Linked DNA regions of Homo sapiens: region 1 is linked to region 2. The links come from fine-mapping of genetic effects on gene expression. A gene starts in region 2. The other region holds a variant in brackets. All regions are shown on one strand. Distances are between the middles of the regions.

What was found.
Region 1: its variant is fine-mapped to the expression of RC3H2 in whole blood (INTERVAL, PIP 0.97).

What each region holds. Positions count from the first base shown.
Region 1 is chr9:122,969,796-122,979,027 of GRCh38, reverse strand. The region is part of intron 2 of RABGAP1 (RAB GTPase activating protein 1); the gene reads right to left. Among named protein-coding and RNA genes, the nearest start is that of RABGAP1, 33 kb to the right of the region's middle. The variant T/C (reference allele first, on the strand shown) is at 3,650.
Region 2 is chr9:122,901,402-122,910,633 of GRCh38, reverse strand. RC3H2 (ring finger and CCCH-type domains 2) reads left to right here and starts at 5,275. Exons shown (of 21, transcript NM_001100588.3): 1 at 5,275-5,524. ZBTB6 (zinc finger and BTB domain containing 6) reads left to right here. Exons shown (of 2, transcript NM_006626.6): 2 at 1-2,578. RefSeq lists a silencer at 5,171-5,820.

The DNA of each region.
Region 1 (9,232 bases), 68 kb before region 2:
ACTCAAGAGGCTGAGGTGGGAGGATCACTTGAACCCAGGAGGTTGAGGCTGCAGTGAGATTATGCCACTGAACTCTAGCCTGGGCAACACAGCAAGACCCTGTTTAAAATAAAATAAAATAAAGTAAAATAAAATAAAATAAAATAAAATGAATGACTAAAATTCAAAACAACTCTGACAATAGGAAGGGCTGGCAAGAATAAGGAGCGACTAGAAAACCCTCGTACATTGCTGGTAGGAATGCAAAATGGTCTAGTCATATTATCCATTTTTTATAAAGTTTTATAAGGTTAAACATTACACTTACCATATGACTCACTCTTAGGTATTAGTTACCCAAGAAAAATAAAAACATATGTCTACACAAAAATCTGTTTGCAAATTATTTTTTGAGAGACAGGGTTTTTCTCTGCTGACCAAGCTGCAGGAGAGTGGCACGATCATAGCTCACTGCAGCCTCAAACTTCTGGGCTCAAGCGATCTTCCCATCTCAGCCTCCCAAGTTGCTGAGATTACAGGAATGAGCCACCAATGCCCGGCTGCAAATGTTAATGCATTATTCATAATAGCCAAAAACTGAATACAACCCAAATGTTTATTCACTGGTGAGTAGATTAATAAAAAGATTCTTATAGATCTATAAAATGGAATACTACTAAGCAATAAAAAGGAATAAACTACTAATACACACAATAACATGGACAAATCTCAAAAGCATTATTCTATGTAAAAGAAGCCATACACAAAAAGACTACATACTGTATGACTCCATTTACCTGGCATTCTGGAAAAGACAAAACTATAGGGACAGAAATCAGATCACTGGTTATCAGGGAAGGGGAATAAAGGTATGACTAAATAGATGCACGAGGGGACTTTTGGGAGTAATAAAAGTATTCCCCATCTTGACTGTGCTGGTCGTTACATGAGACTTTACATTTGTTAAAACTCAGGACTGTACAACTAAGAGGGTTGCATTTTATTGGTGTAAATTTTACCTCAAAAAATCTGACCTAAAATAAAACAGAAAAAGTATGATTTCCACAAAAGATGCAATTTGAGAACACAACTGTTCCTTTTTTTCTATGTACCCTACTAAAGGTGCTCATCCAGGATTCTGTCTTTGGCATTAACTTCACGTTATTAGACTCTCCTGTGCCACTGTATGGTATCTACTCCCAACAACAAACAATCTCAAATCTCTATCTACAATCCCTTCCTCAACTGTCTACTGGATAGAGACCTTCAGTTGGATACATCAAACTTATTCTGTCCAAAACTTAAGCCACTGATCCTCTTCCTGCTTTTTTTTTTCTTTTTGAGACACAGTCTCATTCTGCCGCCCAGGTTGAGCAGTACAGTGGCGCAATCTCTGCTCACTGCAACCTCTGCCTCCTGGGTTCAAGCGATTCTCATGTCTCAGCCTCCCGAGTAGCTGAGATTACAGGCATGCGCCATCACGCCCAGCTGATTTTTGTATTTTTGGTAGAGATGGGGTGGGTTTCACCATGTTGGCCAGGCTGGTCTCAAACTCCTGGCCTCAAGTATCTGCCCGCCTTGGCCTCCCTGTTGGGATTAGCAGGCATGAGCCACCGAACCCAGCCCTCCTGCATCCTTTTTTAATCAATGAGTTGCACTACCATTCACTCCATGGCCAAATTAAGAATTACAATCATCCTTGATTTCTCTCATTCCCATATAACTCACAAATCCTATTGACCCTTGTCTGTCCATTTTTCCCTTCTATCTTCTCTGCATAGCTAATACCTTAGGACAACCTCTTTCATTTTACGTAAGCCTACTGCAGTTAGTAGTTTGCCTGCCTTCTTTCTCTCTCTTCTCTTTCACATATGGCCACCATTCAACTTATAATTGCCAGTCTTAGTTGTGATCAAGCACTGCCTTGTTTTTAAATCCTTCCATGGTTCCTCAATGCCCACAAGATAAAGCCCAAATTCATAAGTATATCCTATTAGTCTTTTCACAACTCTGCTCAATCTGCCTTTCCAGTCACTTAGTCACAGCAAACTACTCAACTTTCCCAGGACCCACCATAAACTTTCAAGCACCCATACTTTGTATAGAGTGTTTCCTTTCCTGGAAAGTCATCCTCTCCTCCTGTGTATTCTTTAAGACCAACCTTAAATTCTGTTATCTCCTCTGGGAGATCTTAACCGTTCTAGATAGGATTTAATCACTCCCTCCTCAGGGCTACCATAATATTAGCATATATGTTTATTCTAGCATTGCTACTTGTTTTAGAAAATATTTGTTTAGAGAGTCCCTTGAACCAGACTGGGCAGAGACTGTTTGTTAAATTATCTTTATATCCCCAAAGCTTCAGATAGTGACTGGGACAAAATACACCTGAAATACATATTTACTGAACTGAATGTTACAAATGCAAAGAATGGAAGCCAAAGCAGTATGATTTTATCCTACTTGGATACTGAATATTCTACAAATTTTGGTTTAATTATAGAAAGGAAATCTGAATGACTTTAGCTTTATCTACTAAAATACAAAAACAAAAACAAATACCATCTGTTTTCATTATTCTGAGCAAGTGTCATTAAGGGCTAACATTTACAATAAGAACACTGCAAAGAGCCCAGTGCAAAACACAAACAATATATTTTGAAGTCCAACAAAGACTTCTAATGTAATTTAGCACAAATATGAAGACAAAAAAAGCAAAACAAATATTTATGAATAGTACAACTAAGAATTACATTTAGATTTGTGTTTATTTCCATGTACTCTACATTAAAAGGAACAGTTCTTTAGGAAAGTCCTGAATTGTTAAGGAAAACAATAAACATAAAAAGGCCAATTTAGCATTTAGCAGCTACTGTAAACATATGACATAAACGTTTGCAGGGATGGAGACTGCATGATGAATTGTTTATTCATAATTCTGCTTACATAGCAGGGTGGTACTAAAAAAAACTGGGCCCAGAGTTGTTTTGTGGCACAACTCCAAGAGGCACCCCATTCACAGCACAGATTATCTGAATGGCTCTCACTAGAACTGTAGTGTGCAAAGCCTATGCAACTGAACTTAGTAGCCATACTTGGACTCCCAAGTAAGACATATCTGGCTTTGGGACATTGCTCTGACATTAACTCTGTAACTGAGGGCAAATTAATGTCTGGGAGCCCCAACTGTCTCATCTCTAAAATGAGGATGTTAATATCTATCTCACAGGATTGTTATTAGGGTTTGATAACATTATTGGGCACTTACGTATATTTCAGGCACTGTATCGTGTGGTTTTTACAGAACTATCTCATTTAACTCTCACACCACAGTACCTGCCAAATAGCATCCAATAAGTGTTGGTATTCCTCCACCCCACTCTCAGCTCTTTCTAAAGAAACTCTGATCCACCTATTAGAGTTGAGGTTTGAAAACAATAAACTTAGAAAGCAAGTAGTTCTACTTTTCGTGGCCCAAAGAAACTCTAAGAACACACCTACTATTCATGTACAAAAGCAGCATACTGGAATAACATTTGTCCTTTCTAAATATATCAAATAAGGGCAATATCTTATACGGTAGAATTGGCTACAAGTCTGTTTCCTTGAGAGCAAAATTGCATTTATGGAACCAAAGGACAAAATGTTCCAAAGGCAAAATCCAGAGTCA[T/C]TTCCTGGTCTCAATTTTCTACTTCTAATTTTATAGTCCTTGTTTCCTTTCACTGCAACAATACCAACTTGGCCCCACTTGATTTGCCAGTTATACAAAGCTACTTCAGGCAGTTTGGGATCCTTTTCTGAAGGATATTTAGGCCCTCAAGAAAACATGCTTAGGAAGGGACACTTTGTGCTTGAGAAGTCCCTAGATGATCAGAAAATTAAAGACGAATTCCTGATGATCTACAGTTTCCACTATTTTAATCCTACTGCAGTAAAAACACAAATGAAAATGGTTCAAACTGAGTAATATTGCTGAGCTTCAGTGTAAAAGCTGAGCAATTAAGAAGTATGTATGTTACTTATAACACTAAATAACCTTAGCTGTGTCAGAATACATGACACGAAATAACCAAAAGTCCAATTTGGATATTTGAAGATTTAGTTACTAATCTCAAACCTGCTTACACACTCATTCTGTGATCTTTGTTAAATCAGTAAATTTCTTTATGATTTACTTTATAAACCATGGCTGTTCTGATTATCAGTCTTTTTATCTTACTCTATGAAGGAAGAACCAAACAACATAAAGTTATCATTAGAATTTCTAGTATTACTTTAAAATAAAAAGAGGACGGGAAAGAACAGCAGCTTGTGAATTTATCCTGAAAAGTCAACTGAAGACAGGCCCAAAACATTTACAACTGTTTCACTAAGTAATGGGATTATGGATGGGTTTTATTTTAATTTTTTTATTTTAAAAATAGAGACAGGGTCCCATCATGTTACCTAGGCTGGTCTAGAACTCCTGGGCTCAGGCAATCCTCCTGCCTCCACCTCCCAAAGTGTGTTGGGATTACAGGCATGAGCCACTGCACATGGCCATGGCTGGGTTTTAGTTACTTCTCTTACTGCCTGGTTTTCTATATCAAGCAAACATTATTATAACTAAAAAAAAAAAAAAAAAAAAAAAAAAGACAAAGCCATTTCCATCTTGGGAGGAAAAGAAAAGCAAATACAATCAATTCTTCTACCTACAGTAGTCCTGACTCCATGTTCTTTCAAGCTTCTGGATCTTACCACGTTACAGGCTCACTTGTTTGTACAGGGCACTCTTAATATTTTCTCAACTATCACCTACTACACATAACCTTTCTTTTCTTCTTTAGGCAACAATTACATTCTCACACAGTTCGCTCATACCTAGATTCTAGTACATGATGAATTGTATCATGATGACGTATTTACTGATGTGTCTCCACTGCCACCACCACTATAACCCTCTTAATTAAACTGAGCTCATGTTCAGTAACTTTGCTGAATAAAAGATCTGCATTACAGAGGACAAGATTACCAGGTTCTTTTTTTCTTTTTTTTTTTTGGTTTGAGACGAAGTTTCGCTCGTCGCCCAGGCTGGAGTGCAGTGGCGTGATAGCTCACTGCAACCTCCGCCTCCCGGGTTCAAGCAATTCTCCTGCCTCAGCCTCCGGAGTAGCTGGGATTACAGGTGCATGCCACCACGCCCAGCTAATTTTTGTATTTTTAGTAGAGATGGGGTTTTGCCATGTTGGCCGGGCTTGTCTCAAACTCCTGACCTCAGGTGATCTGCCCGCCTCGGCCTCCCAAAGTGCTGGGATTACAGGCGTGAGCCACCACGTCCAGCAGATTATCAGGTTCTAAAAAAGCAGTATCAGAAACCAAATCAGAAGATTAGTTTCGGCATTACTGAGACAGAGTGACTTTTGTTATCTGCTATTTTAATAAAGTTTGGCAATTTTCTTTCATCTAAATAATGTCAATTAGATTTTTCAAGAAGAAAACTCTATGAGGATTAAAGAGTTTAAAAAATTAACTGATCTGGCCAGGCTCGGTGGCTCATGCCTATAATCCCAGCACTTTGGGAGGCCGAGGCGGGTGGATCACGAGGTCAGATCGAGACCATCCTGGCTAACACGGTGAAACCCCATCTCTACTAAAAATACAAAAAATTAGCCGGGCATGGTGGTGGGCGCCTGTAGTCCCAGCTACTGGGAGGCTGAGGCAGGGGAATGGTGTGAACCCGAGAGGTGGAGCTTGCAGTGAGCAGGGATCATGCCACTGCACTCCAGCCTGGGCAGCAGAGCGAGACTCCGTCTCAAAAGCAAAAAAAAGTAACTGATCTTTCTGCATAAGAAACACTAGTTCATCAATGCATCCCCAACCAGTATTTATAGAGTATCTTTGGGTAAGAGCTAAGATTCCCAACTGAGAGGAACATATAGTCAGTCAGATGGAGAAAATACATGTTCTGCTTTTATGGAAAGTTCTCACATTTTGATATGAGTTGTCAAAACATTTTATTACGAAAAATACCTGCTTATGGATGACTAGGTTAAAAAAAAAAGAAATATACCTCTATGTATTTTTTTTTTTTAATATATAAAGAGATAGGCTCTCACTATATTGCCTAGGCTGGTCTCAACTCCTGAGCTCAACCAATCCTCCCACTTTGGCCTCCCCAAGTGCTGGGATTACAGGTGTGAGCCATCACGCCCGGCCATACCTTTATGTTTTCTATAACCACACCATCACATAATACTTTTATTTAAAGGGCTTACGTAAAGCATTACCAACTCCAAGAAGCCTTCCTTGACCCTTCCCTCAAGCTGAATTAGGTTTCCATCCTCTGTTCTATAGCACCCTTTGCTCATCTACACCACAGCATTCATCTAACTATACTGATGTTGAAAATTAAATACGGCCAGAGAATCTCTACAGCACCTCCAATCAAGAGATATAGCCTATTTACCCAAAACTTTGAATAAGAACTGGACTTGTGACTTGCTTTGAACACGAGAATCCACGTGGTATAATTTCTAACCCACAGCCCCAAGGGCCTTACAGCTGCTACTCCTGTCCTAAGACTACCATGCTGTGAAGAAGCCTAAGACGAGCGACTACATGGAAGGAGACCCAGCCATCCTACTCAAGTCCAGTCCCCACCCGACCCACCAGATGAAGCTGTATGAGCGCAAGATTGGCAAAAACCAACCAGTCAATCCACAAAATCAAGAGAAATAGTTTTAATCCACTGAGTATCGAGGTAATTTGGAGTTTTTTTCTTACCATTTTTATTTTTATTTTTTAAAGAGACAGGGTCGCACTGTTGTTGCCCAGGCTGGTCTTGAACTCCTGGGCTCCAGTGATCCTCCTGCCTCAGCCTCCCAAAGTGCTGGGATTACAGACATGTGCCACTACAATGGGCAGAGGTAATCTGTTACAAAGGAAAGACTAACAGAAAAAAATGTAACAAGATTTTTAATTGTCATCTGCCCTAAGCTATAAGCATCTTAAATACAGGCACCAAGTCCACTTCATCTCTATTCTCATTCAGCCTTGTATTATTTTCTCTCTGGCTATGATGTTCTCCAGTTCTACTATCATTCCACTTGGGACTTACTGTGTTCTTTGAAGCCAATGATTTATATCGTTTATCACTTCTGGAAAATATTCAACTATTATCTCTTCAAGTATTTTCTTCCATCTTCACCATTCTCTTATTATAGAACACTTAAGATGGTTGGTCCTTCTCATCTTAATTTTCATGTCTCTTAAGTGGTCTTTCATATCTTTCAATGCTATCTTCTGGATAATTTCTTCAGATCCATTTTCCAGGTATTTGATTCTCTCTTCAGCCATGTGTAATTTGCTGTTTAACATATCTGCTGCACTTTTAATTTCACTGGCTCTAAATTTAATTGCAGAATTCCAGTTTTAGTTGGCTTAATTTTTACATTTTTTGATATTTTGTTCTTTTTAAATGTTTTCTAATTTTGCTTTAAGTCTTTAATGATTTTAATCATATTTCCCTTAAGGTTATACCTAATAATTCTAATGCCCAAGTTCCAGTGGGATTCAGTTCTGCTGGGGTTTGCTAACTTGCTCATAATAAATAATTCTTTGTATATATTTGTAAATTTTGGATTGTGTGCTCTGCTTTAAGAGGGTTATCTGGGGAAATACCATGTAGCCTGAGTGGCAAGTATGTTCTTCCAGAGTAGTTCTGCAATTGCTTCTGTAAGGTGCCTGGAGTATTATCAATCAAGGAACATACAAGCAGTGTAAATTCAAACTCTAAACATACATGAAGGCAAGCCTGTGGGAATAAATTCCCAGCAAGACCCTCCTCCAAATTAGTGTCCAAGCTAAGAAATGTAAGTTTCCTTATGTTCTTTCCTGTGAAGTACAGGTAGAATTTTTACCCTATCCTTTCAAGTTAGGAAGTAGCCCCTGAGTACACTTTCTGAGGAGATCTCAGCTCCAACACCTCTCTCTCTAAACCCAAGGCCTTACCTCTTGCCCAACGTAGTTATCAAAATCCAAGCACTTTGGTTATAAAGAATAGAAAATTCCTCAGTGCAGACCAAATGTCAGCCCATATGTATAGTTCCAGCTTTCAGTACCCTCTTTGTTTTTGTTCCTTGAAGACTGTCATTACTTTCTTGTAAATACAGCTAGGCAATTAAAAAGCTGTTTGTTACATTTCAGCCAGCTTTCCTAATTATTTTATAATGGAAACTTCTTAGGCTGTGTAGGTTATCATATTTTCAAAAATGGGAATTCCTATCCTGTGATAGTTACTAGCTGTCAAATGACCTTTCAACAAGACACTCAACTGGGACTTTTGGAGTTTTGGGGTGGAATAGTGACAGACTTTTAAAATATGTTTTCCATTGGGTACACATGGACATAAAGATGGGAACAATGGACACTGAGGACTGCAACAGAGGGTAGGAAGGGAAGGAGACAGAGGGATAAGGGTTGAAAAAACTATCTATTGGGTACTGTGCTTACTACCTGGGTGTAATTGTACCCCAAACCTCAGAATCATGTAATATACATTTGTAACAAACCTGTACATGTACCCCCTGAATCTAAAATAAAAGTTTAAAAAAACATTTCTTTTTTAAGACAGGGTATCACTATGTTGCCCAGGCTGAACTGCAGTGGCTATTCACAGGCATGCTTATAGAGCACTGCAGCCTTGAAGTCCTGGCTTTGAGCAATCCTCCTGCATCAGCCTCCTAAGCAGCTGGAACTACAGGTACACACTATCACACCCAACTCATGGTTCCACTTTTATGTTTATGTCCCAAGCATAAATGTTAGCATTAAAACAGAAACAAAGAAAAATTCCAGGACCTGGTATAGTGGCTCATACCTGTAATCCTAGCACAATGGGAGGCTGAGGCAGGTGGACCACTTGAGGCCAAGAGTTCAAGACCAGCCTGGCCAACATGGCAAAACCCCATCTCTACTAAGAAAAAAAAAAAAAAAATTAGCCGGATATGGTGGCACACTGGCACATGACTGTAATTTCAGCTATTCAGGAGACTAAGGCACAAGTCATCTGAACCCAGGAGGTTGAGGTTGTAATGAACAGAGATTGTGCCATGCCACTCCACTCCAGCCTGGGCAACAGAGCAAAACTCTGTCTCAACAAACAAACAAAACTCGAGAGCCTTGGAATTTATTAAATGTCATGTTGGCCAGGCGTGGTGGCTCACAACTGTAATCCCAACACTTTAGGAGGTCAGTGTGGGAGGATCATTTGAGG
Region 2 (9,232 bases):
TGGGAGGCACAGTAAAGCTGATGGGATTCTGTCTCATCTCATACCTTACATATAAGTCTCAGTAGTATCCCTAGAGAAATAGTGTTCCTCTCTTATATATTCTTGATTCTAGTGACAAAGGATCCAGCAGTATTTGCAGATTCCGATTTGGAGTCTCTAGGTAATTGATTTAAGTATAAAATCCAATCATATAAAAACTTTAATGAATTAGGATAACAAGAAGAGAAAATAAAGGTAAAAACACTATTACCTGTTTCTAGTCACTTTAGAACAGATGGCACTAAAAAAATTTTTTTTTAACTTTTTACCAGCTGTTCTTGGATTCCAAACTAAACACCAAGATACTTTTCATTTTAAAATGTATAAAGTAACAATTCAGATTCACTTGGGAATAGCAGAATTTTTTTATACAGGGTTAATAATCCTTAAAATACTTTTATTTCCATGCCTTATTAGTATACATACTTAAGAAATGGTTCATTGGGCCCGAGTTTCTTGATTTTATTTAATACAATCGGATTTAATAATTTTGTGGCCAGTAAAATTATACCATTGGCATGAAGCTGTGAAAAATGAGAAATTCTACCTTTACCAGGGATATCTGTTCTACTGTTTTAAAAGTTCCTCTCTATTTTATTTTTTATTTAACATGAAGTAAAATTGAAATTTCTTCTTGGTGTATAGTTCTGTGAATTTTAACAGAAAGATTTGTGCACCACTACTGCAGTCGGTACAGAACAGTTCCTTCACTCCCAATAGCTCTCTTATGCTGTCCCTTTGTAGTCAGCTCCTTCTAGCTCTAATCCTGGCAACAGTTCTCCGTCACTATTATTTTGCCTTTTCTGGACTGTCATATAAACAGAATCTTATAGTACGTTCCCTCTTGAAATGCTTTTTCACCCAGCATAATGACTTTGAGGTTCATCCATGTCATTTTAAATTTTGAATTGGCAATATATATTCTAGCTGTTACTAGATGAGCAATTTAAAAAGGTGTAGCTATTAGTGTTGTATTTTTTCATTTACATTAATGTAATTTCCATTCACTATGTGTTGATAAAAATCTTAACCATCCCTAGAGTTTTATATTTCCAAAAATATGCCAAAAGGAAAACTATGACTGTATGATTATTTTAGCGAGAGTCATATTTGAGATGGTGTTCTGAGCCATAGTTCTCTAACATCTCCGTCTACATATAACACAAAACTTTTATAAATTATTTTAACAAAGATTAAAATATACTGCAGGGCAAATAATATTCTCTAAAACACAGGAACTGCTTTTCGTAAAGAAGACTGACTAGATGCATCTTTCTTTGAAGCTGTTCTAGTCCTCCTCTAGTTAACTTAGCTTTATGTAGAATTTCTACTGTATTTAATTTCTATTGAAGCCCTTCTGTATTTTAAAATGTAATATACTTTGTACCATTTATAAAAATTGTGTGATGAATGAATCACATGTTCGTTGTTATAAGTGTTAACCTTTTTTTGACAATTTTGTGGGAAAGACATTCTCCACTGAATTTTAACTTTCCTTGAGACTTTCAAGAATGCAGGTCTCGTTTGATGAAAAAACCGACTTCATAACCCAATGTTACTAGTTAGCGACATTGTGCTGAATTTCTCCTTGAACTTTTTAACTTTATATGTAAAATAACTTTGATCTTGGTCATTTGAAAGATCATTTCCAGGTCTAAAATTCCATGATTTTGTATTTAATTCTTCCTGAGAACAGAAGAGGGGAAAGCAAGAGAGGACGGTTTTGTGTCTTTATGAACTTTGTTACTTAAGTACTCCATTGGAGACATAATTTTTCTAATTAGTGGATCTTTTTCCACTGGAAAGTGTGATAGCTCATTGCTAATTTTTCATTCATAGTTCATTGCTTCCATTTGACCTAAGATTGGCCATTTGTTGGTGTGAAAATATTTTCTTTTCAGAAATAGTTTACTAGTGATTGAAGTACTTTTCTTATTTTTGCTTCCTATTATAAAATGGCGTGGGGGGAAGGGGGAAGGATGGAGATGGGAGGAGAGGGTAAAAGAATAGTACTCTGATTTTTTAAGAATTAGTATCTACTATCTTGGATATTTGAAAAAAAATTGGTTGAAACTATGTTTAAGTTTTATGTGTGCCTTGTAAGATTGTTGTAAAATTTTTTGTGAGCACTTTGAGATTTTTGCTGGGGGAGGGGTGTTTTGTGAAAGTGATGGTTATTATTTATATTATTTATTCCTGTTCAGTAGCACGGAATGATCTCCAAACATTCCTAGGAGAGTGTCTGTTTGCATGATATGTCTAAAAATTTTCAGGAAAATGGAATCTTTTTTTAAAGTTCAGGTATGACAAAGTATAGAATTTATTCATTTAACATATTCACATTTAGTTTATGTTTCTGATATGACAGAAAAATGAAAAGTGTTTGAGTTCAGCCTCTTCATTTACTCCATTTACATATAAAAGATCTTGAAAAGGTAGTTGTTACTTCGTTGTCAGAGAAAAACACTTGCCCTTTTTCCTGGGATGTAACTATCTTACATGTTTACATAAGAAATAATAAACTGGAGGTGGGAATGGAGAACAATGTGTTTTGTCTTCATCTTTGAATTTTAAAGGATACAATTTAAAGGATACAATTTCTCCTGACTATACATTAATCATTCATCTAGCAAATACTTCCTGAGTCCTTACAATGAAATATAAGTTAGGTATACAGACAAAAATTCCTGCTCTTGTGAAACATCTTAGTGAAGGGAGACAAACAGTAAACAAGTAAGTAAAATCCATGTATGTCAAATTTTGAGAAGGAATTTGGAGAAAAATCAGGAATAGGGAGTACCAGAGAAGGGGGATGGAATTGCAATTTTAAATATGGTGGTCAGCGCCGGGCGCCGAGGCTCAGGCCTGTAATCCTAACACTTAGGGAGGCCGAGGCTGGCAGATCACTTGAGGTCAGGAGTTTGAGACAAGCCTGGCCAACCTGATGAAAACCCTTCACTAAAAATACAAAAATTAGCCGGGCATGGTAGCGCTTGCCTGTAATCCCAGCTACTCGGGAGTCTGAGACAGGAGAATCCGTTGAACCTGGGAGGCAGAGGTTGCAGTAAGCCAATATCGCACCGCTGCAGTCAGCCTAACTGAGGGAGCAAGACCCCATCTCAAAAATAAATATGGTGACCAGGACACCTTTGAAAAATCTCGGATTATCAGAAATATATATTCTTCTGTCTAGTGAAATGTAAATATATCCAGTAGAATAGAAAAATTTGGCCTGGACTGGTGGCTCACGCCTGCAATCCCAGCACTTTTGGAGGCCGAGGCAGGCGGGTCTTCTGAGGTCAGGAGTTCAAGACCAGCCTGGCCAACATGGTGAAAACCCGTCTCTACAAAAATACAAAAAAGAAATTTAGCCGGGCATGATGACGGGTGCCTGTAATTCCAGCTACTGGGGAGGCTAAGGCAGGAGAATTCCTTGAACCCAGGAGGTGGAGGTTGCAGTGAGCTGAGATCACACCATTGCACTCCAGCCTGTGTGACAGAGTGAGACTCCGTCTCAAAAAAAAAAATATGTACATATATGTATATATAATGTGTATGTTTATATGTGTATATATACTTATATGTATCTATATATGTGTATATATATTTATATGTATGTATATATGTATATATGTGCATATATGTATATATGTGTGTATATATATATATACACAGTAGGGTGGAAAACAAATATGTACATGTAAATTACCTATCACTGTCCAGTTGAAATTACTGAAACAATTATTGGTTGTTAACAGTTCTCTAGGCCTGGCATATGTTTCATAAAGAGAAGAGAACGAAAAAGATAATGTGTGGAAGAAACGTCTTCGATGTGGCCAATGAATCTTTTTTCAAAAACACTGATTTTTGCCTGTCATTCAGACAAATATAATAGGTAATAACTATATATTTTGTTAAAACTGTAGAAGCAACCTTTCCATATTCTAATTTATCGTAGGTTTACTTCGATATTTTTGTTGTTGGGCATCTGATTTCACATTGGAAAGTGCCTTGAGTTTAATTACAAGTCATGGTCATTTTTTTTCTTCTTTTTTTTGTTGAGACGGAGTCTGGCACTGCCCCCCCGCCTGGCTGTAGTGCAATGGCGCGGTCTCGGCTCACTGCAACCTCCGTCTCCCGGGTTCAAGTGATTCTCCTGCCTCAGCCCCCCGAGTAGCTGGGATTACAGGTGCCCGCCACCACACCCGGCTAATTTTTGTATTTTTAGTAGAGCCAGGGTTTCACTATGTTGGCCAGACTGGTCTCTAACTTCTGACCTGGCGGTCCACCCGCTTCGGCCTCCCAAAGTGCTGGTATTACAGGCATCAGCCACCGCGCCCGGCGTCATGGTCATTTTCTAGCCTACATTCTTTAGTTTCTCATCAGTAACAAGGGGTACATTGTATCTGTCTTCTAGGATCACTTTGCTAATTAAATGAAATGTAAATAAAACTAAAATATTTAAAATTAAATATCACCTAACACAGGACCTGCCTGACACATACTAAGTAGTTTATAAATGTTAATTCTGATATCCCTATTCCAAGTCTGTTTCATCTATAAATTATAAACTGTAAGAATAATTCTTACCTTAGTTCGCTGTGTAAAAAGCTTCAACAAATATTTGAGATATGATGCCAGAATTTGTGCTTAAATTTTTTATTTTTGCCAGCTTTTGAGGAGCTCAGAGCTTTCTTCCCCCCCTCCCCCCCCCACTTTGGACTCTTTGTCTAGAAACAGAGTTTTCTCTTTAATAAAGAAGTGAGATGTGGAAGTGCCTGCCAAATACATGTTTTCTTCTTGTTTTTGTAATGGGGAGATTACTTGACATCTTTGTAAAGGGATTGAGGGATCCTGTCGGCATGTCATCACAGGAGTGTGAAGAAGAATGTGACACAGATGTATCAGATTCTGCTCAATGGATTCCACGCTTTTCACGAAGGGAGTTAAGACACTCGCTCAAACCAGCGTCTAGGAAGCCGGCTCAAGGCGCAGATGAATGTGCAGGGAATTTCCCATCAATCCCTTCGGCTTGCCTAGTCCTTCTCACAGTACCTCCCACAGTGCTCCGGGGCTCCCTTGTCACGTGATCGGGGTGGATCCGCTGAGGCAGAGGGAAGTTGATTCGCAGTTTGGGTGGCTGGGGCTACTACGCTTTCCTTCCAACTCCCGACTCCCGGGCTTGCGTAATCTCGCGTTAAGTGGGGAGTAACTTCTCGCGAGAGCTAGATCGGGATCCCTCCAGGTCCGCCTCCGTGGTGAGGAGGAGGAGGAGGAGGAGGCGGAGGTGGAGGGAGGAGGAGGAGGCCCCGTCGCGGCCTTCGCCGCCGCCAACGGGGCTGTCCCTGTAGCTCCCGATGGAGTTTGAGGTCGTGAAACCTCCGCCGAGCTCTGCCCCGGCGAGACGAGGCGCCTCCGTCGCCAAGCCGCGCCGTCGCGGGGCTCCCGGGAGCGGCCCTTAGCGACCCCGCCCGGGCCCCCTCAGGTAGGGCGGGGGCGGGCACGATGCGGCTCGGGCCCCAGCCCGGGTGCCTGGTCCCCGGCGGTCGGGCGGGAGACCAGTCTCAGCCCTGGGGCCTGTGCGCTGTCGCCCCTGGTGCCTCGAGGGTTGGGAACTGAGGGCCGCACCTGACACTCGGATGGAACCCGGGCCCTGCGGAGGCCCCTCTCTCTGGTAGGGCTTTTTCGATGCGGAGCGACCGGCTCAAATGGCCACCTTCCTTCGACACTGGCCGAGCGGACGCCTCTGACCCCTAACGAACCCACCCAAGCAAAGGCCCGGCTTCACTCTCCCTTTTCTACACCAGTTAGTAAGGGGGTTTGGAAGAGGTCCTCGAAACCAAGTCTTCTCCTAGCTTTTCAGCTTTCTGCCCTGGGGCTTCCCGAGACCCTAGCGTAGAGGGTGGTGGAGGCGATCTGAGTGGTAAATAGGAACCCCGGCCAAACAATGCCCTGGGAGGGCTTAACCTCCCAGGATGGGGACGGCCGGACCTGAGTGGTTGCACAGGGGTTGTGGCTAGGAGCAATGGCATGAAACACAGCCAGGAAATTCTGCTATGGCTTTCTTCTTTCCCTCTCTCATTTTTCCTTTTTGGTGTAGCCTCTTGAGGAGACTCTTCCACCATCTTAGAAGAATGGTAGAAAGCATCTTTGTTTCCCAGAGAAGCAGCTGTACTTTTTTCTATCCTTAGCTTTCAGGATGGGAGAAGATGAGGGTAGCTGTCATTTCCATCCTTCAAATCCCAAGGCAGCCGTTTAAGATACCGGCAGATAAATCCTTCACACCAAAATTGACTCAAGTAATCACTGGCATAAAGTAAATCTAATCCAGTGATTTATTTATATTTTCATAACCCTTGGGTTCCCTTTTTAATTCCTCCTCTCCCCTTACCCACGGCCTTCCTTTTTTTCATTTCTACTCTCCCCCTACCCATTGTGGGTGGGTGAGTTTGTATCCCAAATAAAGTGCTTTAAGTAATCTTTTTTCCAATTTTGTATTGGCCAAACTTTTAAGTTCCAGTAGGAACTTTTGGTTAACCTGAGAAAGCTAACGTTGCTATACCACAGTGGTATAAAGTCACTCAAAAGCAAAGAAACAAATGTTAGCCAGTGCAGCCTTTTAATGGTTAAACATACAAACTTAGTTAAAAGCTTTTTACGATATTAAGAATATTAATAGATTCTCCTTTTTAAAAAACCTTTTAGCTGTCTAAAAAGCTATACCACTGTTGTAGCTTCACATGCCTTTCTTACGTTGTTTACTTCCACGTTCAATTTTTGAAGAAATAGAGGTCGTTACATCCTGTTAAAGACTGCTTTTCAATATTGACATTTTCGTTGATTTGGAGATTAATGTTTTCAAAATTTTAGAGTTTGGAAAATTGCTAGGAGGACAGAATGTGAAACATATTCTAGTTACGTTTAGAAAAAGCAGATGTTATAATTCAAACAGGCACTTGTTCTATGAGGATTTAATTACACTCGTGTTCATTAGTGGATCCTTTGAGTTACCCCTGATCTGTTATTTCTGTTGTGGTAACCTGACATGTAAGAAGACTTACGTCCTTTGTTCATATATTTTTGTTAAATCATACTCTGCTTTTGTAATTTGCTGTCTTCCACTTTGAAAAAACCAAAAATTTGCATTTTGGCAAAGCATTCTTCTTTACACTCAGGATTTTATATTCAAAAGTTGAACTTCTACATTGTTTGCAATAGCTAAGAACGCTAAAAAAAACTTCATAACAAGGTTTTAGTAACTACTTACTGTTTAGTTTGTACCGTGTTGAAGTTTCACTTTTTAGTGATGGAAAAAGGAAGCATGGGTAAAATAAAGCTAGCTGAAAATTAAAAATAAGTTCATGTTTTGCATCCAGTCTCATGAATGTTATGATCAGCGTCTCTAATTTTACTAAAGCTTTAAGTGTAAGTGTGAGTTTTACCTCAATTTCCTGATAAAAGTTCTAAGTATTACTTTATAATTTAAATATTCTAGAGTTGCACTGTCCAGTACTAGCCAGTGGCCACATGTGACAGTTGAAGATTTGAAATGTGGCTTCTGTGAATTGAGATGTGCTTTAGGTGTAAAATACCAGATTTCAAAGACTTAGTACCAAGATTTTTTTTAATATCTCAGTAATTTTAATATTGACAACATGTTGAAATGATATTTTGTATAAACTGGGATAAATAAAATATATTACTAAAAATAATTTTAGCTATTTTAACTTTTTTTTTTTTTTTTTTGAGACAGTCTCTCTCTATCACCCATGCTGGAGTGCAGTGGCACCATTCGGGTTCACTGCAACCTCTGCTTCCAGGTTCAAGCAATTCTCATGCCTCAGACTCCTGAGTAGTTGGGATTACAGGAAGGCACCACTACACCAGGCTAATTTTTGTATTTTTAGTAGAGATGGGGTTTTGCCATGTTGACCAGGCTGGTCTGGAACTCATGACCTCAAGTGATCCACCCACCTCCCGCCTCCGCCTCCCAAAGTGCTGGGATTACAGGCGTGAGCCACCACGCCTAGCCTCTTTTAACCTTTTTTAATGTGACTACCAGAAAATTAAAAATTACTCGGATTATAATGGCTCACATATTTCTATCGGATATTACTGTTGTAGATCAGCATTACTCTTCCAAGAAATATGTTAGTGGAATAAAAGTAGATGTATAAAAACCCAAAACTTCCAGATAGATTATCCTGTTACAATCAGAATAATTAAAGAGCTAAGGACTTTGGTAATATGAAGGATGAAGTTATCCATTGGCTATGATTTGATAGGCAGAAGTAAGTTCTATCTCAAAGAAAGTATTTTTCTCGTCATCACTAATATTAGTTATACTTGTTAAAATAGAAAGTTGGCTGGGCGCGGTGGCTCACGCCTGTAATCCCAGCACTTTGGAAGGCTGAGGCGGGTGGATCACCTGAGGTCAGGAGTTCGAGACCAGCCTGACCAACATGGATAAACCCCATCTCTACTAAAATTACAAAAAATTAGCTGGGCCTGGTGGCGCATGCCTGTAATCCCAGCTACTCCGGAGGCTGAGGCAGGAGAATCGCTTGAACCCGGGAGACGGAGGTTGCAGTGAGCCGAGATCGCGCCATTGCACTACAGCCTGGGCAACAAGAGCGAAACTCCGTCTCAAAAAAAAAAAAAAAAAAGAAGTAGTTATCTCATTATTGCCCTATTAGAATGCATTGAGACTGGGCGCCGAGGCTCATGCCTGTAATCCCAGGACTTTGGGAGGCCAAGGTGGGCAGATCACGAGGTCAGGAGTTTGAGATCAGCCTGACCCACAGGTGAAACCCTGTCTCTACTAAAAATACAAAAATTAACCGGGCATGGTGGTGCGCACTTGTAATCCCAGCTACTCAGGAGGCTGAGGCAGGAGAATCGTATGAAACCGGGAGGCGGAGGTTGCAGTGAGCCGAAATCGCACCACCGCACTCCAGCCTAGGCAACAGAGTGAGACTCCTCCATCTCAAAAAAAAAAAAAAAAAAAAGAATGCATTGGAAGTTATATCTAATATTTATTTTAAAACAGTTCAACCACATAGTGTATTTAAGAAGTAAAATTTGAGTCATATATACTTCACACGTTAACGGCAAAATCACATATTATAGCAGTCTTTTAAATTGCAATTCAATTCCTTTTTCTCCAGTACTGAGTTTCTAGCTTACAGGTTGT